Linked DNA regions of Homo sapiens: all the other regions are linked to region 1. The links come from fine-mapping of genetic effects on gene expression. A gene starts in region 1. Each other region holds a variant in brackets. All regions are shown on one strand. Distances are between the middles of the regions.

Region 1 (5,545 bases):
ACTATTCAGAAGTCATGTAGCCAGAGGTCACAAGATTTGTAACTTCACCAATTGCTCCTTTAGATAACATCACTATTGTAAAACCTAAGATTGGTCTTGAGATATTTTCCAGGCTTCTGCATTCTGGCAAACCTCCTGATGCCACCCAGATACATGCCTCATACCAAGAAACTGACTCTACTAGTCCTATGACTCTCACCTAGACAACTGACTCAGCACAGGAAGACAGTTTGGAAACACCTATAAATTCATCCCCAACCAATCAGCAGCGCCCATTCCCTACCAACCTGCCCACAAAATTATCCTTGAAAACCACAACTTCCAAGCTGTCAGGGAGGCGGATTTTAGAAATATTTCCCATCCTTCCACTCAACTGCCTTGCCTCCATTAAACTCTTTCTCTGCTGCAACTCCTGCATTCTCAATGTTTGGCCTTTCTGGGAAGTGGGCAAGAAGAACACGTTGGCCTGTAATAGGAGAATAAATAAGTTTGGCAAGCAACAAGAGGGTGCAAGTATTCTGTGTAGAAGGAATTGCAAGTGCAAAGTAGAAAGAGGAGGCATACTACCAGTTTGAAGTTGCTTGGTATGTTCAATGAAAAGCAAGTAGCTAAAAGGCAAGAGAATTTTTTTTTTTTAAGTATGGAAAGGGAAAGGCAAAAGCTAGACAGAAAAGTGCTTGTTCATGGAGGAACTTGTGTGCCATTCTAGACATTTTACTGTAGGAAATAGGGAATCTAGAGTTTTAAGGAGGTGAGTAAATCAACAGGTTGGGTTTTTAAAAATTCCTTCTTGTGGCAGAGAAAATAATGGATTGGAGAATTTCCAGACCAGACTGTAAAAGTCACTATTAAAATAATCACGAAATGAGGAGATGACAAACTAAAATTTGATCTAGTGAACAACTGAATATGGGAGAAATAGAAGAGGGAGGAATGTAGGATAACTCTGATTTCTAGTTTAGGTTATAATATAGTAGTAGCATTATTTAACTTGGTGAAAATAGGAGAAACCAGGAGGAAAGATAGCAAGTTCAGTTTTGGTCATATTAAGTTTGAAGGACATTTGAGACAGATGTGTCCGGGAAGCAACTGAGTTAGGCATTAGTAGATCTGAGAGGAAAATTGAAATTTAGAAGCAAAATCAAAGGTGTTAGTAGAATCCATGTGAGTGGACAAAATCACCCAAGGAAAATGTCTAGACTAAGAAATGAAAGTAATCAAGGAGTTAATTCCAAAGAATGACATTCAAAAACCAGGCACAGCCAGTAAAAGGAATTAATGACTATGAACCTCAGTTGTCACAAAGAGACTAAGTAATGTAAATTTTGAGAAGTAATTACTGTATTTGGTATTTAAAAGGCCATTAGAAACTTAAGCAAGAACAACTTTCTTGAAGCCATTAAAGAAGCCAGACAGAAGACTTTTGTCTGTTTGATATAAGTAAAAATAATATCCTTTCAAGAAGTTTACTGATAGATAGGAGGACTAGGAAATAACTGGATAAACACAGGATGGAGGACATGGTTTTGCTTTATTTAATTTTCATAAGATGTGTGACTTGAGCACTGAAGAGAAGAAACTGGAGAGGAAAAGGCTGAACGCACAGGAAAGAAAAAAACAACTGGAAGCGAAATGTAACAGATGGAAGCAAATGAGATCAAGAGCAAAGATGGATGGATTATCCTTTAATATCCCTTTCTCTACACTAGAAATACAAGACTAAAGGCTCGGCAAAAATATAGAGCAATGTGTAGGTTGGGGGCATGAGGTTGAAGAAATGGCCTGTTATACTCCATCATGTTTAGAAAGGAGAAATGAAGAGGGCAAAAGACAGGGTTTGTAAAGGGAAGGTTTGAAAATGTCTTCACAGAGAATGGGTCAGGGGAAAACTGGGGTAACCAAAAGGATTGCTGAGTAGTATGAAGAAACAAGGGGTGGTGGGTGAGGGCTCTGTTTCTAAATTCATAGCTATAACTATCTAAAGATCTTTCTATCCTCCAGTCCGTTATCCATAAGTGCTTAAAAGATATGGTAGTTAAGTGAATTAACTAGAACCCTCTCAAACATAGGGGTGAATTAAAATAACCTATAGGCTTATTTAAAATGCAAATACCGAGCTCCATTCCTTTCATTCAGAATTTCCAGGGGTGAAGCCCAAACAGTGAATTCCAGAAGCTCTCCAAGCAATCCCAGGAGAAATTTCTGTTTAAAAAAAAAAGAAGAAGAAAGAAAAGAAAAGAGAAAAGAAAAGCAAGCACAGACCTAGAAGGTAACCAACTGGATAGAAGAGCGCTGATCCAACATACACCTGTTAATGGCCCTCGTGGGGGCGTGGGGCAGTGCTCTGCCACTCAGAAAAGCAAAAAGACTCCAAGATCTAGGGAGATTCAGATCAGTGTTGAGACAGTCACATACACACCACCCCATACTCTTAATAAAGCGCGTTAATGTGAATCTGTGAACATGAAAAATGCCATGATGAACAATGCAAACACATAATGTTTGTTCAAAACAGGTTATTAGACTCGATGCCTTACCCTAAATTTTCTGTTTCATTACTCTAGAGACTTAGTAACATTAGTGGAATTCAGGGTGCTGTAAGAAATACGGAGAGCGAGGAGACTGCAGGAACAGCCCGTGGGAAGGGGGAAAGAGATAACGGGGAGAAGGTCGGGAGGACCGGACAACTTTAAGTGCCCATCCGCCCGAAGACTTGGAAAGCTAAGTAAGTAGGACCCCAGAGCCGTTCTTCTGGCATCCCCTGGCACTCACCATTGTCTCAGGATCTCAGCACTAGAAAATAGGTATCGTTGAGACAGGAAGACACCACCACCACCACCATCATACGGTTACTCAGGCAACAAAGCCCCGCCCACTGTCGCACGAGGCGTGGGACGCCACCGCCCCACCTCTTCGTCCTTAGTGGCTGGGAGTAATCTCAGCTGCGTTCATCCAATCGACAGACCCGCCCCTCCACGCTGTCGCCTGGGGCTACGAGACGCCATTATTCTGTTTCCGGCAGTTTTACTTCCGTTTGTTTAACAGCTGGCCCGGAAGTTTAAGTGAATATGCGGCTTGGGCTCCAAAAGTTGCTGTACGGTATTTTATTTTAAAGTAGAAATCTGTCCGCTTTTCACTTACGGAGGCCTTACAGTGTGTGTTCTGTGTTACTTGAGTTTATACGCACTGCAGAATTTGTTTACCCTGCTCTTTTGGAAACGTATTCCGGAAGCGAAACCCTGAGTAATCGGAAGTGGTTAGGAGTGAGAGAGCTGCTGGATATGCGGAGGGACTGGGCGGGTCGGCTTCCGAATGGAAGAGGTCTGTGAGAAGTTAACCTGGTGATACCGATCCGAAGAGCCTATCAAGTGAAGCCCCCTGAAATACGGAGAATAAGAATCTTAGAGGTAAATCCGAGGACAAGCAGGTATAACTAAGGATGTTGGAAAGGGACGGAGGTCTGGCTGGAGCTCGGTGGCCAGTAGCTTTGGATTTAGGGAAAGATTGTTCCGGGAAGACTTTTTCAGACAGGGATGAAACTTAGGTTTCGACTTCCCCGGACAGCAAAGTTGACAGGCTTGTCGCTTCCCGGCCTATCGCTTTCATACCTGCTCACTCCCCCTACTTACTTCTTCACCCCCTCCGCTTCATTTGGCATTTGCCAGCAGGCACTCGCTGTGCCTGTACGTTTCGCAGAGCAGCTATCAAGGGCAGTTTCAGGGATCGTTACTCTTACGAAGGGTTTTTTGGATACCTCTTTTCGGAGCAGTAGAGTGTAAGTGTAGAAAAGTTTGTGACTGTTAAGAAAGTTAGTCGTCGGGTTCACTAATTGAACTGAGTTGTATCTAGTACTGAGAACGATCTTTTTTTGTAGTGAAACCAGTTGTCATCTAGTGTACAGTTTGTCATATTTATATCATTGCAGTAGCATCACCTTCTTATATGTTCTCTGGTAAATCTGAGTCTGTACTGTAAGACAATGTATACATTTCTGAAAGCATGGGCTCGATATGTTTCTCTTTTTACTTTTGGAGCTACACTATTTTAATTTTAACTTTTTATTACCAAAAAAGTATAAATTATGTTATCTTGAGTAATATTTTTTGTCGTTTGTTAAACATCTAAACAGAAGCTCCTTTTTGATATGTGTGTGTGTGTATACAAATTGTGTCGGTATGTCTCCTAAGAAAGTAATTACTTTAAAATTCCTCTTGTCATATGGATGACAAAACCACCACAGTAACTTCATTCCCTTTGCTTGGCTAAAATTCAGGACATACTTCTGACAATTTAGAGTGTATTGGTGAGGATGGTGAAACGGAGTATTTAGAAGTAAACCACCCCTAATTTTTTTTTTTGAGACTTTTAGTAGACATAACAATGCCTTCTGTGAGAATGGGATATAAGGGACATTTCTCTTTCTAAATGCATGCGTACTAAATACAGAAGCAATTAAAATATCATAACTTTTAAATTGGAGGTACTCTATGTGTTTATATGATATTTTTAAAATTATTTCATATGCATACATTTCTAGGTTGTTCAGCAGAAGTCTTGGAGTGCATTTTCAGTGGTTAAGGTGAAAAAATGACTACTAAAAATTTAGAAACCAAAGGTAAGTGGCTTTTTTATAATTGTTTTTAAAACATGACATTTATGACGATGTGAAGGAACGTTTGAGCCAGATAACTAGATCTCATGGACCCCCTTGGGAATCATTTGTTATTTCAGATCCCTTTATGTTTATTTTTTAGTGCAGTGTTTATATTTCAGTACTTTAGATGTACAAGTGAAATTTAACATCATTAGTTAGAATTTATTAGGTGACTACTCTTAAACATTTAATGTTAATGCAAAGTTTTTAACAGCTATATTCCCTATACACTAGAAGATTACGATTTAAATAAGAATACACATTTTAAAGATTTAAGTAGATAGACAAAGCAACTAGGGTGTATCAAAGATCTCTTTCATGTTGTATTAGTTTGCTGGGGTTGCTGTAACAAAGTACCACAAACTGCATGGCTTGAACAACAAAATGTATTCTCTCAGTTCTGGAGGCTAGAAGTCCAAGATGAAAATGTCAACAAGGCTGTGCTCCTTCGGAAGGCATTAGAGACACTCTCCTAGCTTCCAGTGGCTTGCTGGCAGTCTTTGGTGCTCCTTGTCTTGTAGACGTACCACCCTTATCTCCGCCTTCATATTCACATGGCATTCTCCCTATGTGCATGTTTCTGTGTCTAAATTTACCCTTTTTATAAAGACAGCAGTCATATTGAAAAAAGGAACCCAGTCTACTCCTGTATGATTTCATCTTAACTAATTACATCTGCAGTGATCCTGTTTCCAAATGAAGTCTCATTCTGAGGTAGTGGGGGGTTAGTACTTCAACAAATAAAGATTTGGGGGACACAATTCAACCCCTAAATTGCTAAATACAGTAGTCACTTTTTAGTCCTAGCTGATTTGTCCTCTCTAATATTTAATACTGTTGACCATTCCCTGCCTTTTGAGATACGTTCTTTTGATGACTTCCATGACATCA
Region 2 (8,112 bases), 210 kb before region 1:
GACAAAGTTTCGTTCTGTCACCCAAGCTGGAGTACAGTGATGTGATCATGGCTCACTGCAATCTCGAACCTCCCAGCCTCAAGAGATCCTACCACCTCAGCCTCCTGACTAGCTGAGACTTTAAACACCTGCCACCATGCTCGGCTAATTTTTTTTTTTTTTTTATTTTTTGTAGAGACATCTCCCTCTGTTGCCCCGACTGGTCTTGAACTCCTGGGCTCAAGTGATCTTCTTGCCTTGGTCTTTCAAAGTGTTGGAATTACAGGTGTGAGCTATTGTGCCCAGTCAAATAGGGATAATCACATTTTATTTTTTGAAACAGAATCTCACTCTGTCATCCAGCTGGAGTACAGTGGCATGATCACAGCTCATGGCAACTTTGACCTCCCAGGCTCAAGCAATCTTCCTGCCTCAGCCTTTGGAGTAGCTGAGACCACAGGTACATGCCACTACACCTGGCTAATTTTTGTATTTCTTTAGAGACTGGGTCTTGCCATGTTGCCCAGGCTGGTCTCAAACTCCTGGGCTCAAGTGATTCTCTCACCTCAGCCTCCGAAAGTGTTGGGATTACAGGTGTGAGCCACTGTGCTGGGCAGAAATGTGTATCTTCAAAACAATACCTGGTGAAATGACTGCGGATTCATATCAATGAATGAATGAAATTTAAATAAAATAACATGTGGTAGTTAACTTAAAATTAAGCCATGGATTAAGGAGATAAAATTAATTTTTAATTCCTCATGTTACATTGAAGAACTCAATATTATAAAAAAATCTCTGGCTTTTTATTTTGAATTTGAAAATCAGAGGCCAAGCACGGTGGCTCACACCTGTAATCCCAGCACTTTGGGAGGCCAAGGTGAGCAGATCAGGAGTTCGAGACCAGCCTGGCCAATATGGTAAAACACCGTCTCTACTAAAAACATGAAAATTAGATGGGCATGGTGGCGTGCACCTGCAGTCCCAGCTACTCAGGAGGCTGAGGCAGAAGAGTCGCTTGAACCCGGGAAGTGGAGGTTGCAGTGAGCTGAGATCAAGCCAGTGCACTCCAGTCTGGGCGACAGAGCAAGACTCTGTCTAAAAAAAAAAAAAAAATCAGAATTTTCTACCTTTGTCCATTAGTCCTAGTTAAATAAATATTTTTAAAAATATTTGTGCCCATGTATAAGTGTTAAAGAATACTCTATTTCTCCAAATAATTATAAAGGATTTTTTCTTTATTTTTAAAATATGTTTTTAAAATTTGTATAATTTAAAAAAATTTTTTTTTAAGATAGAGACAGGGTCTTGCTGTGTTGTCCAGGCTGGTCTTGAACTCCTTGGCTCAAGCAATCCTTCTGCCTCAGCCTCCCAAAGTGCTGGGATTACCACAGCACCTGTCCCAATTTTCTTTAACATAGATAAAATCACCACTCGCAGGACTCAACTAGTTTACATTCCTCTTTGACCTATGAAATGTGATATATGTTTTCCATATCAAGTTTGAATAAAATTATCAATCAAAGACTCCATAAGCATGTGTAACTTAGCCCAGTTGCTCCCAACCACCAGATGGTGAGGGTCTAGGATGACATTTCACTGCTTTCTGGCAAAATGGGAAAAATGAGGGCAACAAAGCAGTGATGAAGCAAGGGTTGGCAGGAGTAGTCCACCCTGGGGAAGGGGCAGTATTTTCTCACTGACGTTGTTTGGAACTGCCTGTTTATGGTGATAACAAAAAGCAGACAAACTATTAGTGGATTCTATTATTGTTTTAAAATGATCTACAGAAGATGCAATGCTGTTTTGCCTGTGCCTGAAGTGGACTGCTTCGACCATCATGCCTTTGGCATGCAATAGCAATAAAGTGAGCTTCAGGTAAAGCTGAATTTATTCAGTTGAAGAGACAGTCCATTATTCTGTGATAAAATGCTGTTGGTGATTAAATGTCCTTTTAAAACAAAACGATGATGATGGGAAACAAATTTTTCTAATGTCTTCATTTGTTAAATTTTAAAAACTTTATCATTGTGTCTATCCCTGAAGTGGGTTTTATTACTGTTTAGTTTTTTTTTTTTTTTTGAAATGTTCCAGGTCTGTGAAATGTCAAATCTGACAACAGCTTGACAAAAATTAATCAAGAGAACAACTTGACTTAATGGAGAGTGCACAGTGTTTTTTGGCTCAGAACAGTGGCTCTCCAAGTGTGGTACTCTAAACCAATAGCATCAGCACTAACTGGGAACTTGTTAGAATGCAAATTCTCAGGCTCTATCTCAGGTCTACTGAACTAGACACTGGGGGGTACAGCCCAGCAATCCGTATTTTTAAAAAGCCCAGCCAGGCATGGTGGCTCACACCTGTAATTTCCAACACTTTGAGAGACCAAGGTGGGACGATTGCTTGAGCCCAGGAGTTCTAGAGCAGCCTGGGCAACACAGGGGGACCCTGTCTCTACAAAAAAAAATTAGTGGGGCATGACGGTGCATGCCTGTGGTCCTAGCTGCTAGGGAGGCTGAGGAGGGATCACTTGAGCCTGGGAGGTCGAGGTTGCAGTGAGCTGTGATCATGCCACTACATTCCAGCCTGGGTGACAGAGTGAGACTCTGTCTCAAAAAAATTAAAAAAAAAATTAAAAAGCCATCCAGGAATTGTGCTACTGTTTGAGAACCATTTCCCAGGGAATAGGTAGAGAAGATGCAAAAAGTGCTGAGACAAAATGCCTGGAGATTCTTAAATGCCCCCTGTAAGGTCACTTTTAGTCCAATGATTGTGTCTATTTATTTTATATGGATTTTCCATAGTTATTAATTAACCAATTTATACAAAATAAATTAATCTAAAATAATCCTAGAGTCTTCGGCAAATGATTTTATAAGTGCCTATATAAAGTGGGATAAATTATATTAAATACAGTTCTTAAGTCATTAAGCTTGTTACTTTTCAGATTCAGAAGGCAGCCTATCTGAAGAAAGGTGGAGCTGGCACTGTACTTGAGAAACAGAAAGACCTATGAACCTGTAACTCCCTTTGAATCTAGCAATGAACTTATGCCCCACTATGACGGGATATAGGAGGGAATGTGAAATTGCTCCTTATCCAAGATTCTTTTATCTGAGAAAACAACCAATGCTGATGAAATACTAACTGGGCCATAAAGAATTACAATTTGATAGCTTAAGGCCTCTTATATTATCATGATGTTTTTACGATGAATGTAGAGACTTCTGAAATATCAGGTTTGAGAAGGAAGAAAAGAATCCATGCAAACCATTCGCTTTCCACATGCACATATTTCAGGTTTTACTTGAATAAACAGCAATGAAAGAAGATGCTGGTGGACGTGGCCTTTTTAATTGATACATAATAATTGTTCACATTTTTGGGATGCTGCAGTGGACTTTTCTGGCAACTGGCAGGTGGAGGGAATGGTGAGATGTGGTACTTGAAAGTGGGGCTCACTCTCATCAGGTCATTGAGACATTTCCGCCACATAAAGAGAGAGAGGGTATGGAGGTGCACTGTCCCCATTCATGATATATTCCCACATGCATTTACTCAACAGACTAAAAGCCTGCAATATGTTAGCAGCTGGAGATACAAAAGTCCCTTATAAGCCCAGGTCCTCAAGGCACTTACACAACCCACAGGGAGAATGACAAGAGTTGGTCCCCTGTACACCTCTGAGCCACATGACCATGCCAAATGGTGAGTGCAGATTTGATGAACCTGCAGATAACTATTTTAAGCTGCAAGAAACCCAGGGCCTCTGCCCTTGTTACCCTCAGCATCCATGCAATACATGCATACCACATATCTCAGGCCTCTCCTCCTCCCTGGGAGGGCAAATGGCAGCCTTCACATTGAGACTTCCCCCCAAAAAATCTGGGTAATCAATCAGGTCATGGCTGGCTCCTTCCACAGAAGCCACAGATTCCCCCATTCAGAGACTGGAGTTCC[G/C]TTGGAAGTGTAACAACCCTTGGCTACAATTAAATCCATCTAGAGAGGCTATTGATCCTTTCAAAGTTAAGAGGCTGCTGCTGCTTCCAACTGTCAGTTAAGTCCTGAAAGCAAAACAATCCCTTTGCTGGCCTTCTCACAGGGTCTAGGCTTTCCTCAAAAGCAGAACCAAAGCCGACTTCGAAGAAGTCTGGTGTATGTCTTCTTTTGAGAAGTGTCTGTTCATGTCCTTTTTGATGGAGGTTTTTTATCTTTTTGGTAAATTTGTTTAAGTTTTGTATAAGTGCTGGATATTAGACCTTTGTGAGATGCACAGTTTGCCCAAATTTTCTCCCATTCGATAGGTTGTCTGTTTACTATGTTGATAGGTTCTTTTACAAGTTTTAAAAAAGTCTGGTGTGCCCCTACTCACTGGGACAGTGGTTTCTAAATGCTAGTTTAACTATCAGCCATATCAGAATATCAGAATCACCTGCAACATAAAATACAGTAGTGCCCCCTTATAAGTGGGGAATATGTTCCAGTTCCCCCAGTGGATGCCTGAAACTGTGGATAGTACCGAACTCTATCTATACTACGTTTTTCCATATGTATGAGAGATAAAGTTTAATTTATAAATTAGGCACAGTAAGAGATTAACAATAAAATAGCATAATTATAACAATATACTGTAATATTTCCTCATACTACTCAGAACGGCATACAATTTAAAACTTTTTATTTTTTAATTTTTGCAACCCTGCTCTTTAAGGTACCATACAATTTAAAACTTATAAATTGTTTATTTCTGGAATTTTCCATTTTATATTTTTGGGCCATGGTTGACCATGGGTAACTGAAGCTGTGGAAAGTGAAACCATGAATAACGGGGCTCTACTCTATAGATATAAGGAGCTCATACCAGACCTCCTTAACCAGAATCTTCTATAATAGGGCTCTAGGCTTACATAGTTAAAAAAAACTCTATAGGTGATTTTAATGCATGCCATTGATTGGGAACCGCTGCACTAGGACGGTAGTTCTCAAATTTCATGGGCATCAGAAGCACCTGGAGGGCTTGTTAAAGCACAGATTCCTGGGTCAAATCCCCGAGTTGCTAAGCAGCTGGCCTACAGTGGACCCCGAGAATTTCATTTCCCCTAAGTTCTCAGGTGATGCAGCTGTTCTGGAGCAGGGGAGGACACATAAGAACCACTGCACTAGGGATTAGCTAGGGCCAGTTCCATTGGAAGCCTGTTTACTAGCTAAATGCCTCTTGACCACCTGGAGAAGATACTGCTTTTTACCTTTCCAACATTCATTCTCCCTTTCTTCCTTCTAACAGTATCTTGATTTTTGCTAGTGGGAGCAATGTTCCCAAGTAACAGAACTACATTTACTCACTTCCTTTCTAAAAAGGGGCGGCCACAGTACTAAATCCCAGCAACAACAAAAATCATAACCTGAAGCTGTTGGGTGAGGGCTCTGGTTTTTGGAAAAGCTTAAAGGTGGGCGAGGGAGGAAGTGTTAGCTCAGCTGGCATTCTTCGCCTTTTGCCCTCACTCTTCTTTCTTTATGCCTGGAAAAAAGAAGTGATAACTCGAGTTCTGACAACCATTCTGTGGCAACAAGGCAAAAAGCACATACTAAAGATGATGACGGTACCAAGGAGGAGGAGACTGGGTGACTGATGGTATTACGGAGTTGCCATACCAGTCCCACATGCCTACCTTCAGATCTCAAATTATGGGGCGGAAAAATAAAAGTTCTCATTTTTAAAGATGATTTTAAGGTCTCTATTTACTAGTGACCAGAAAATTAATTATTAATTTGTCACACCCCAACCCACCAACATGGAGGCCATTATATTCACCTCTTTTCTCCGATCCTGCTATTCTCACATGGCTCTGAGATTCTTCTTCCCTTCCCCAATCTCTAACTATTCCTATTGCTTTCTGCAGAACTTCAGTGCCATTGTAAACTCCCTTGAAACTTGAATCTCTTCATAGGCCTCTTAGCCTTAAATGAAACTTGGATATCCCCTAAGGGCATCAATTCCTTGGAGTCCGCAGGATAAGAATCTCTGGCCAGGAGGGTAGGAGTAGTTCTATCCTTTGTCCCAGTGCTACTTTAAGACCTCCTCCCCTTATATATGAACTCCTGACTTTTTGAGGCTTATGCCATCTGGCTAGATCTTTTCTCCTTGTTGCTGTCACACCTTTGGTTCACAAACTTCCCTAGTTTGTGAAAGACTTCAGAATTTGAGTCACCATTTTCTTCTCCACCCTACCTCCTAACCATGATCCTAGGTGATTTCAATGCCACTCAACATGAAAGCTTCTCTCAGTTCCTAGACTTACATATCTCTAGTGACTGATACTGATCTCCACTCCACACTGGCTACCTCCTTCCATGGCCACACCCTGAATCATATCATCCATTACCATGGAAAGCTCCACTTCTGAAGTGTACAGTGACACAGCTCTTTCCCTGTTATTCCTGGGGTCTCTGTAGGTACCTTAGAAAAGCATTCGGTCCCTTGGCCCATCTACTTTATCCCTTTCTTCAAGCACCTCCTGCCATCACATCTTTCCTTGTTTATAACTTCAACTATAGTTGCTAACATCCTCAATTATCTTTCCTCATCGTACCCTCCTGTAAAAACCTCACCCCTGGGCCAAACTGTTCACCAGAAAATAATAACACCATAATACATGTAATCTCCTAAATCAACTGAATTGTAAATACAACCCATAAATATATATTCTGTCATCAGCACTTTCTCCATGGCCACTTCAAACTTTGTCTACTATCTCTTATTCAAGACTCCTGGTACTAGATGTTTTGGAATTTACAATAATAATCTGGAATATATAGTATATATTATATAATACTCCAAGGGGTCTGGGAAGTCACTCATCATCAAATACATTAATATTTTTACAGCAGTGTGAAGAGTCACACTAAATAGGTTAAATAAAAATGATATACATTAAATGTTTTGTCAAGCTACTGAAACAAAACTGTTTAATGATACACAACTTGATATAAGACAGGTTAGGTTTTACCATTAAACTTATGAAAAAACTTTGGTTTTCAGACATTTTTAGATTATTAGATTTTGGTAACACAGATAAAGATGGTACTATCACGTTTGCTTGGGGATAGGCATTAATCTGGATTCATTCCCACAGGCTACCTTTCACATCCAATTAGTCTCTGAGGCTTTCTGTTCTACCCCACTAAATGTCTTTTGAAGCTCACTGCTTCTGGCTATCCCTTCTGCCATAGCAATTCAGGAAACCAGAATTTTCTCCTGAATTACTTAATAGACTTCTACCTAGTCTCTGTCCCCCTAGACTCCACCCACTTGTTTCCCTGCCTGACCCCAGGGCCCTTTCATCTGTTCTCTATACTGCAGCCAGAGTGACCTCTATAACACAGGTATCATTGTGCTATTCCCCTGAGTAAAACATTTATTTGGATCCCTAATGGCCTCAAGATGAAGTTCAGTTGTCTTAATATGACTTTACGAGGCCCCTGCTGATGTTTCCAGCTTTATCTCTTGCCATTTTCTACCTCCTGGTCAAAGCCCCAGTCTTACTGCACTATTTTTAGATCTCTAAGAGAAAGCTGTTTGCTTTTGTATTTGTACAAGTTGTTCCCTCTTTGACAATGTACTACTAAAAATCACAACTCTTCTTCTTTCAAGATAGAAGCTAAAACTAAAGATAAATTATGAGTGTCAGTATGTGCAGAGGCCTGCGTTAATCACGGCCAAGAAATTGGGGCCTGTCCAATCATCTTAGTCACCATGCACCTATGTTTATTTCTGATTAATCCTTGATTCACTATTTTTTCCCCCAGAGTGTACCAGAATAAGAATCCATGCAGAAGTAATTATGTATCCAAATTCAGATTTGATCAACTACTTATGAAACTGACTTTGCAAAGATTATGACAGTGAGAGGAGTCTAGCATAGCTGACTCCATCTTGCTTCTGGCCTCACAGACTGGCTGTCTTCACTCATTCCTGGGTGTCAGCCAAGCTCACCATGAGAGGAACTTAGTCTATAGTTTAACCTGAAAACAAGAACTAACCCCTTCCTGGCTAGGGAACTGAAAACTGTCTTTGTAAAACTAATGAAAAGCCACAATATTAATATTATGGGAGGGGCCTGAATGCTGCTAAAA
Region 3 (8,112 bases), 200 kb before region 1:
TAGTCCTGCTGCCACTCTCTTCCTTTGCTTAGATCCTAAGAAGTAGAATTCTGGGACAAAAGTTATAGAAATATTCCAAGGCTTTCAATATGTTTTGCCCATAGTTGTCACCAGCTATATGAGGGTATCTACTTTACTGTAGCATTGCCAGCAGTGGGCATTATTACTTCAAAAGTTCTTTGCCATTAATAGAAAACTAGTATTTGATTACTCAGCTGAACATTTTACCATCAATGCTATCTTTAACACACAAATTTAAGATCATTGTAGTTACAACCAGCAGAGTATAAGAGAACATTAACAGTGACAGAACATTCTAGAATGTCTCATAAATACCATAATTTATTCCTATAATCACAAAATTGACTGGGTCACAATTAGCAATATTCAAAGAAAACAAATTTCTGTATTCATGCTAAGATCTTTGACCTCTCAAACTTACTATGAGTTCTAGGAGAACAGTAGAAATGAATTGTTTGATCCTATCACAATCCAGCAAGTAAAACATGTTCTATAATTGTTTGCTATAAAAATAAATAAATAAATAAATAAATAAATAAAATAATGGATAATGACAAAATATAAACTGAAGCCATACTTTCTGAGCTCTATACCCATGACACATAGCTCAGTAAACATCACATTAGGGAAAGATTAAAGAGAAGTAGCATGTTCCCCTCTTTCTCTTCTTGCCATATAAATAGGATAACAATATATTCTAGTTTGCGTGTGACAGTTCTGGTTTATGCCTCTTGTCCGAACATCTTTTCTGATTAGAGCTGCCTTTCAAAGGGTGTTTAATTGGGCAATAAATTTTATGGTCACTCTGCATCTAAAGGATGTCCCCCTAATGAAGAGCTGATCCTAGGAACAAAGTGCTCACTGATCAGACAACTTGTCTTGTGTCACTCGGATTTTCACTTTGAAGACCTATAGCCAGATACCTCATTTGGCCTTTATGTATTTTCATAATATTTTATCATCTGAAGCCAAATAATAATCTGAAAGTAGCTAATTGATAAGGGCATCCTTGACTATCTCAGCACTCTTTATTTCATTTTATTGATAAAAGAAGTGAGGCATGGAAAGAAAATGTGACTTATTCAAGTTCATATCAAGAAAATAATCAGCCATATAAGAGGAAGCTACTGATGCTCTAACTTCTGATTTTTGATTAATTCTCTAAACCACACAGTCATTAATGTACACTGAAATCTCCAGTGAAGTTAGATCAGAAAAATTGCAATCATTTAGTAAATGGCTTTGCAAACTACAGGCAGTAATAATCTATTTCAAACAATATGAACAAAATCATAGGCATACCTTAGATAATACTTTTTCCTTTTTTTCCCCTCAGGCCCTCTTGGATAATATTTTTAATGGGTATAAATTTCATGGTTAATAACATTTCAGTCTCATTAAATAAAAGTCTCTATTCAAACCTAGTTGATAGGTCCAAGCTATCAGAAAGTGAGGAAATATTTATTTATAAAATAAGTTAAAATTTAAAATAAACATTTAATCTTTTTGGTTATTAAAAAATAAAGCTTGGTACATTTTTACATTTCACAAGTATGTCTAAATTTCATACAAAGATGCATAATAGATAAGGTTTTACAAATATCTTGGATTATAACAGAAAATCTTAATGGAGCTAACAAAGTCATTTTCTATAACAACAACAAAGAAACTTATGGTGATAAATTTAATAGACTATTACTAAGAACTATATGAAAAAAAGTGACTCTACTGCTTGCATAAAAGGAGAGGCATACCACATATGAAGTTGGAGAAACTCACTATTACAGATATGACATTTCCATATAATTTATAAACATATTGTAATGTCACTGAAAGTCCCACTTGCATTTTGTAGGGGTGGAGTAAAGACCTCGGTAAAAAGTCATTTAAAGTTCATTCGGAGGTTGGCCAGGCGTGGTGGCTCATGCCTGTAATCCCAGAACTTTTCGAGGCTGAGGTGGGTGGATCACCTGAGGTCAGGAGACAGCCTGGCCAACATGGTGAAACTTCATCTCTACTAGAAATACAAAAAATTAGCTGGGCATGGTGGCATGCACCTGTAATCCCAGCTATGCAGGAGGCTGAGGCTGGAGAAATGCTTGAACTCAGGAGGCGGAGGTTGCAGTGAGCCGAGATTGTGCCACTGCACTACAGCCTGGGCGACAGAGTGAGACTCCCTCTCAATAAATAAATAAAAAGTTCATTTGGAGGAATACATTTTAGGGACTAACCAAGAACACTTTTGTAAAGTATAAATAACCTACAATAATAAAAACAGTATTTTGCTGGTACAGATCAATGGAATAAAATAGGAAGTTCAGAAACAGGCAAGGATGTATATAAGTATTCAATAAATGAGAAAGAACAATGAAAGGATGGATGGATTTAGCCATTTAAATAAAATAAATTGTTTATTATTAATAATATTGTGATAGCTGGCTAAATCCATACCTCACACTATATGTCTAATAAATTCCAGGTGGATTGAACATTTCAATGTATGAAAATGAAAACAAAATATTTGGGGAAGGCTTTTCTATGTACAACTTCCAGGACATAATTTTTTTTTAAAAGACTAATAGATTTGATCACATAAAACATAATACTCATTAAAATAAATGTGTATTAAGGATATCAACCATTTTTCTTCATTTAATCACTTAAATTTATTATTTCTTTTTAAATTTCATTTAGCTTATTTTGACACAAAAATTTTAAAATCTATAAGAAGTTAAAAAAATAAAATATTTATTTACAGTTTCCTTCTTGGATTTTGGCCTAGAAATAACTTTCTTAACCCTAAACTGGACCCATTTTCACTTATATTTTCTCAGAATTTTTCATTTCATATTTTATGTTAATTTAAAAGATGAGAGATCAAATATGGCTTTGTTTCATATTAGCTGTCTGGTTTGGGGATGTTACTTAACCTCTCTGAGTCTCAATTTCAGTTTCCTAAAAAAACAGATATAATGAATACCAGCCTATTGGAGTTGCTATGGCAATGAAAAGAAATCATTTATACAACACATGTGTCATGGTAGAATCTGGTTAATAAAGGTGACCAAAATGTTAGCTATCACTTTGAGTGCTATTGTTATACTTGGTAGCTAGTCGGGTATGAGCAGGGCAGGAAAGGGCTCCCATACCTCACACCAGGAGTGTTGGGAGACCATCAGGTGATGGTCAGGTGGTTGTTAACTGTCTCTCTGAAGTAATAATTGGTCACAGCTGGCGCCAGGGAACGGC[G/A]GTCTCCTAGTAGATAGAAAACACCTAAAACTGGTGACGAGCGGCTTCTCAATAAGATCTCAGGAGTTGGGCAAGTGGTCAGAAGTAGTGCAAGACCCTGGAGGTATGCCATCATATAAAAACCTCAAGTCAAAAGGTCAAGCCATACACTTGTCTTTCAAGTCACCTGCTTGGCCCTCTTCCAAGTGTACTTTCCTTTCTTTTGTTCCTGCTCTAAAGCTTTTAAGTAAACTTTCACTCCTGCTCTAAAACTTGCCTCAGTCTCTCCTTCTGCCTTATGCTTCCTCAGTTGAATTCTTTCTTCTGAAGAGGCAGATACTGAGGTTGCTGCAGACCCATATGAATTTGCCATGGGTAACACTATCACACTGTATATTAGACTCCTTCCCCGCCTTTTTTGGAGGCAAAGTCTCGCTATGATGTCCAGGGTGGAGTTCAGGGGCTATTCACAAATGCAATCATAGCATACTGTGGCCTTGAACTCCTGGCTTCAAGCAATCCTCCCACTTAAGCCTCCCAAGTTGCTGGGACTCCAGGTGCATGCCACTGAGCCTGGCTAGACTTCTTAATTTCATTGGAAAACAGTTGACCCTTAAACAGTGTGGAGGTATGGGGTACCTATCCCCTGCACAGTGGAAAAATCTACATATAACTTTTGATTCCCCAAAAGCTTAACTACTAATGCTGTTGACCGGGAGCTTCATCGATAACAAAAAGTCGATTAACACATAAATAGACTAGTATCTATATATATGTTATGCACTCATAATACACATTTTTTTCTATTTTTTTGATATTTCTAGGCTACAAAGTTCACCCAAGAGTTTTTTCAAATTGTCACAAATCTCCAAACTTTCTAATATATTTATTGAACAAATGAATATATAAGTGGACCAGCACAGTTCAAACATTGTTCAAGGGTCAACTGTATGTATTTTCATGACTAGCAATTTATGGTGATGGTATAGTCACCTGATATAAAAACAAATTTCACAGAATTTAATTATTTTAAAATCAAAATGTATGCCAACCAGAAAAAAATATCTAAATTCTTTGAAAGCTATGCAGCATGCTACAATTTGGTCTTTCAAAGTTGCAGTCCAAAATCATCAGATGGCCAAGTAACAGAGTCATCCAAGGGGAACATCACATACCAGGACTTGTCAGGGGGTGGGGGGGATAGGGGAGGGATAACATTAGGAGAAATACCTAATGTAGGTGATGGGTTGATGGGTGCAACAAACCACCAGGGCACGTGTATACCTATGTAACAAAACTGCACTCTCTGCACATGTAACCTAGAACTTGAAGTATAACAATAAAACAAAAAGTTTTCTTACACATCAGAACTCCTGAGATAATTTATGAGCTTGAAATATAAATAGGATGTTTACCTTCTTTATCTTACCTCTAATAGGCCATCCTCTGGCAGATCAGTACAGTGAACAGCATTCTGGATCTTAGTTTTACCAAAGATTGCTCTGAGAGTTCCAGGGCGTAAATGCCGGGCAATTTCCTATTAAACATACATTCACATATAGATTAATGTTAGTCATATGGTATAAATAAGAAAAACACTAGCTATATGAAACGCTAACTTATTTATGAAATACATGTTATATATAGACAGTGCTTATAAGGGTTTTTCTGTGGCCCAATGTAAAGTCTGCTTTCATCTACATCGGGGAAAAATAATAATTGCATTTCTTTTTATCAATAGATTATGGGAATCACACAAAATGTGAAGCTAGTTCATTACTGTGAAAGACTTGTATTTTATAAAGACAGTAGAGATCTTAACAACTTTGATTTAAAATGAACCAATTTGATGCTATTGATTTCAAAAGCTTTTAAAAAAATGTTAGCTGTATCAACTTAATGGTAGTTCATCTTTAAGAGAAAAAATATGGTCACAAATAGCCCTGAATTTAATGAGGGTTAGAGAGAGGCAAGGGAATGATAATGATGTACAAAAAAATTTAAATTGAGAAAGACAGGAAGAGAGGACCTAGGGGATAAAGAGGTAATTGACAATGAAAAGGTGGATCAATGAATTTGAGCTCCTAGTGGTATGGGATAATTATTGAGATCTGTATGTTAGAAGAAGAGAGCTGGAAAGTTAAAAGATACTCGAGACTGAGATTACTGTGGGTGGGAGGAGAGGGGGCTATAGTGATTGATAATGATCAGTTTTAAGGCATAACCATGGATAAGGTTAGTCTGAGGGCAAGAATGTTAGAAGAAAGAAGAACAACAGATTGAGAGGCCAAGGTCGTAAGTGGGTCACCTCTATGAAAGTGGAAATCAGAAAGAATCATGACAGGTGTAGCTTAGGGTGCAAAGATTCTGAGCAGCACTCACATTTGTGGTTCCATCACTTAAGGATGTTTTAAAGACATGCATTTATTTAATTACTTAAGTTTTATTTGCCAGGGTTCCATCAAATGTCAGCTATAAATGTATTATGTTTAGGAAAAACATTTTGATAAAGTAGAAAATAAGGATGTCTTTATATTTTATTTCATATTTATTACTTTCATTCTGTTCTCCGTAATTTTTCTAGCAAGTAAGTATCCAATATTAAAAACCTACTCAGCTGCGCGTGGTGGCCCACACCTGTAATCCCAACACTTTCAGAGGTAGAGGTGAGTGAATCATTTGTGGTCAGGAGTTCGAGACCAGCCTGGCTAACATGGTGAAGCCCTGTCTCAACATGGTGAAACCCTGTCTCTACAAAAATTAGCTGGGCATGGTGGTGCGTGCCTGTAATACCAGATATTTAGGAGGCTCAGGCAGGAGAATCACCTGAACCTGGGAGATGGAGGTTGCAGTGAGCCGAGACTGTGCATTGCACTCCAGCCTGGACGACAGATCAGACTCCATCTCAGAAAACAAGCAGAAGCCTTACTCTGCTTATATAGTGGGAAGCTGTCATTTTGTGACATAAGATGTAATTTATGAAATTGTGAAAAGTGAGTACTAACGTTCTTTTTCTTATTTCCGGTCAGGGAAAAAAACACTTTTAAATTACTCAGTTCCAGTAAACTGTTTTATTAGAACCTATTCTCTATCAAATTTTGTTTGATGGCCAGGCTCATACCTATAATCGGCACTTTGGGAGGAGTTTGAGAGCAGCCTTGGCAACACAGAGAGACCCCGTTGCTACAAAAAATACAAAAATTAGCCAGGTGTAGTGGTGCACGCCTGTAGTCCCAGCTACTTGGGAGGCTGTGTGGGAGGATGGCTTGAGCCTGTGAGGTCGAGGCTGCAGTGAGCCAAAATGACACCACTGCACTCCAGCCTGGGTTGTCAGACAGAGTAGGACCCTGTCTCAAAAAAAGAAAATTTTATTTAACTTGCACTACATTCATTAAAAGATTACTTTCATATAAGTGTCTGCTACATGCACAGCACTTGAAATCTGAAGAGGTTCATGTGTGTTGGCCTAGCGCGGTGGATCATGCCTGTAATCCCAGCACTTTGGGAGGCCGAGGCGGGTGGATCACCTGAGGTCAGGAGTTAGAGACCAGCCTGATCAACATGGTGAAACCCTGTTTCTACTAAAAATACAAAAATTAGCAGGGCATGGTGGCACGCACCTGTAGTCTCAGCTACTTGGGGGGCTGAGGCAGAAGAATGGCTTGAACCCGGCGGTGCGGAGGTTGCAGTGAGCCGAGATCACGCCACTGCACTCCAGCCTGGGTGAAAGAGCGAGATTCCATCTCAAAAACAACAACAACAACAAAAATGGTTGGTAATTCCTGGCTGTTTTTTTTTTTTTCTTTTTTTTTATGAGTTCTCTATTTGCTTGTCATAGATGCCAGGGACATGCTGCTAGATGAGGTATTCTGGTTGCCTTCCTTTCAGAAGGGGGTGCTACCATTTTTCCTGAGTGTTATTAGCTGCCTTCCCATTGCTCTGCCTCTTTAGCTCAAGCCCCACATTCAGTGCCTTAGGCTGTGGCTAAAAGTATCAACTGCCTTCTGCTCAATGTAAGCAAGCAAATGTGAAGGCGCTGATTTACTCTGCTGCTCTTCATGCAGCCCTCCAACTAACCACCCTGCTTAAGGCCCCATGCCCTTCCTCAGCCTTGCATCCATATGTCTGATGTGCAGCCCACCCAGTACCCCTACCCCTTCTGGAGCAGTTCTCTCCTGCACGTTTTAGAGTGTTGGTTTTCCTCAACGATACAATCCTATCTGCTTTGAGTCTTTTGAAGTTTATGGCCTGTAACAAAACTAAAAAAAAACAAAAAAAAAACAAACCCACAAAAACAAAAACATACGTGTGTGTGTGTGTGTGTGTGTGTGTGTGTGTATGTGTATGTGTGTACTCTTCCTTGTTTTCCAGCATCACTGGAGATTTACTCTTTAAAACAACACACAGTGAAACAGTATCTCCTGTAAATTCCTGTAAGGACTTGGTAAGCAAGGGGATGATGGGCACATATGGTCTTCTGCCATCTTCATGACACTTCATCTTACTGACATTCTCTATTTCTCCAACACAACAAACCATCTTTAGTTCATTTTTCATGCTGCTATAATTTTGTACCTAAATGCCAATACGATCATGTTATTTACTTGCTCAAAAAATCTTTGAAGGCTCATAATTGCCTATGGCCAAATGTCTAAACTCCCCAGTGTGGCATTCAAGGTCCTCCCCATTCTTGCCTAAATCTACCTCACTCACACCTGCCTTGAAAGCTTACACATCCCAGTGAAAACACTGTTTCCTCTATAAAAGCAAATTAAGCCTTCCCAATCAGAGTAATCCTTGCTTCTTCAATGTTCCTACAGTAGTTTACACTTCCAATATAGGCCTTCTTGACTTGCAATTTAT

Which allele goes with the higher level. Alleles are on the strand shown, and positions count from the first base shown. SD is a standard deviation of normalised expression in the study named.
For the expression in macrophages of the gene that starts at base 2,862 in region 1, allele C in region 2 goes with a higher level than allele G (moderate effect, 0.59 SD a copy in Nedelec 2016).
With allele G in place of A in region 3, the expression in fibroblasts of the gene that starts at base 2,862 in region 1 is lower (moderate effect, 0.57 SD a copy in GTEx).

The links. PIP is the estimated chance that this variant, and not a neighbour inherited with it, causes the effect.
Region 2: its variant is the best candidate, but not a certain one, in a credible set for the expression of NME7 in macrophages (Nedelec 2016, PIP 0.72).
Region 3: its variant is the best candidate, but not a certain one, in a credible set for the expression of NME7 in fibroblasts (GTEx, PIP 0.83).

Annotation. Positions count from the first base shown.
Region 1 is chr1:169,364,936-169,370,480 of GRCh38, forward strand. NME7 (NME/NM23 family member 7) reads right to left here and starts at 2,862. Exons shown (of 12, transcript NM_013330.5): 1 at 2,773-2,862. The coding sequence starts at 2,775. It overlaps BLZF1 (basic leucine zipper nuclear factor 1), which reads left to right and starts at 3,260. Exons shown (of 7, transcript NM_001320973.2): 1 at 3,260-3,407; 2 at 4,538-4,615. The coding sequence starts at 4,588. RefSeq lists enhancers at 2,699-3,898, 2,838-3,339, 3,002-3,081, 3,340-3,839.
Region 2 is chr1:169,153,718-169,161,829 of GRCh38, forward strand. The region is part of intron 11 of NME7 (NME/NM23 family member 7); the gene reads right to left. Among named protein-coding and RNA genes, the nearest start is that of ATP1B1, 51 kb to the left of the region's middle. RefSeq lists an enhancer at 8,068-8,112. The variant G/C (reference allele first, on the strand shown) is at 3,940.
Region 3 is chr1:169,164,769-169,172,880 of GRCh38, forward strand. It overlaps NME7 (NME/NM23 family member 7), which reads right to left. Exons shown (of 12, transcript NM_013330.5): 11 at 4,679-4,786. Among named protein-coding and RNA genes, the nearest start is that of ATP1B1, 62 kb to the left of the region's middle. The variant G/A (reference allele first, on the strand shown) is at 3,271.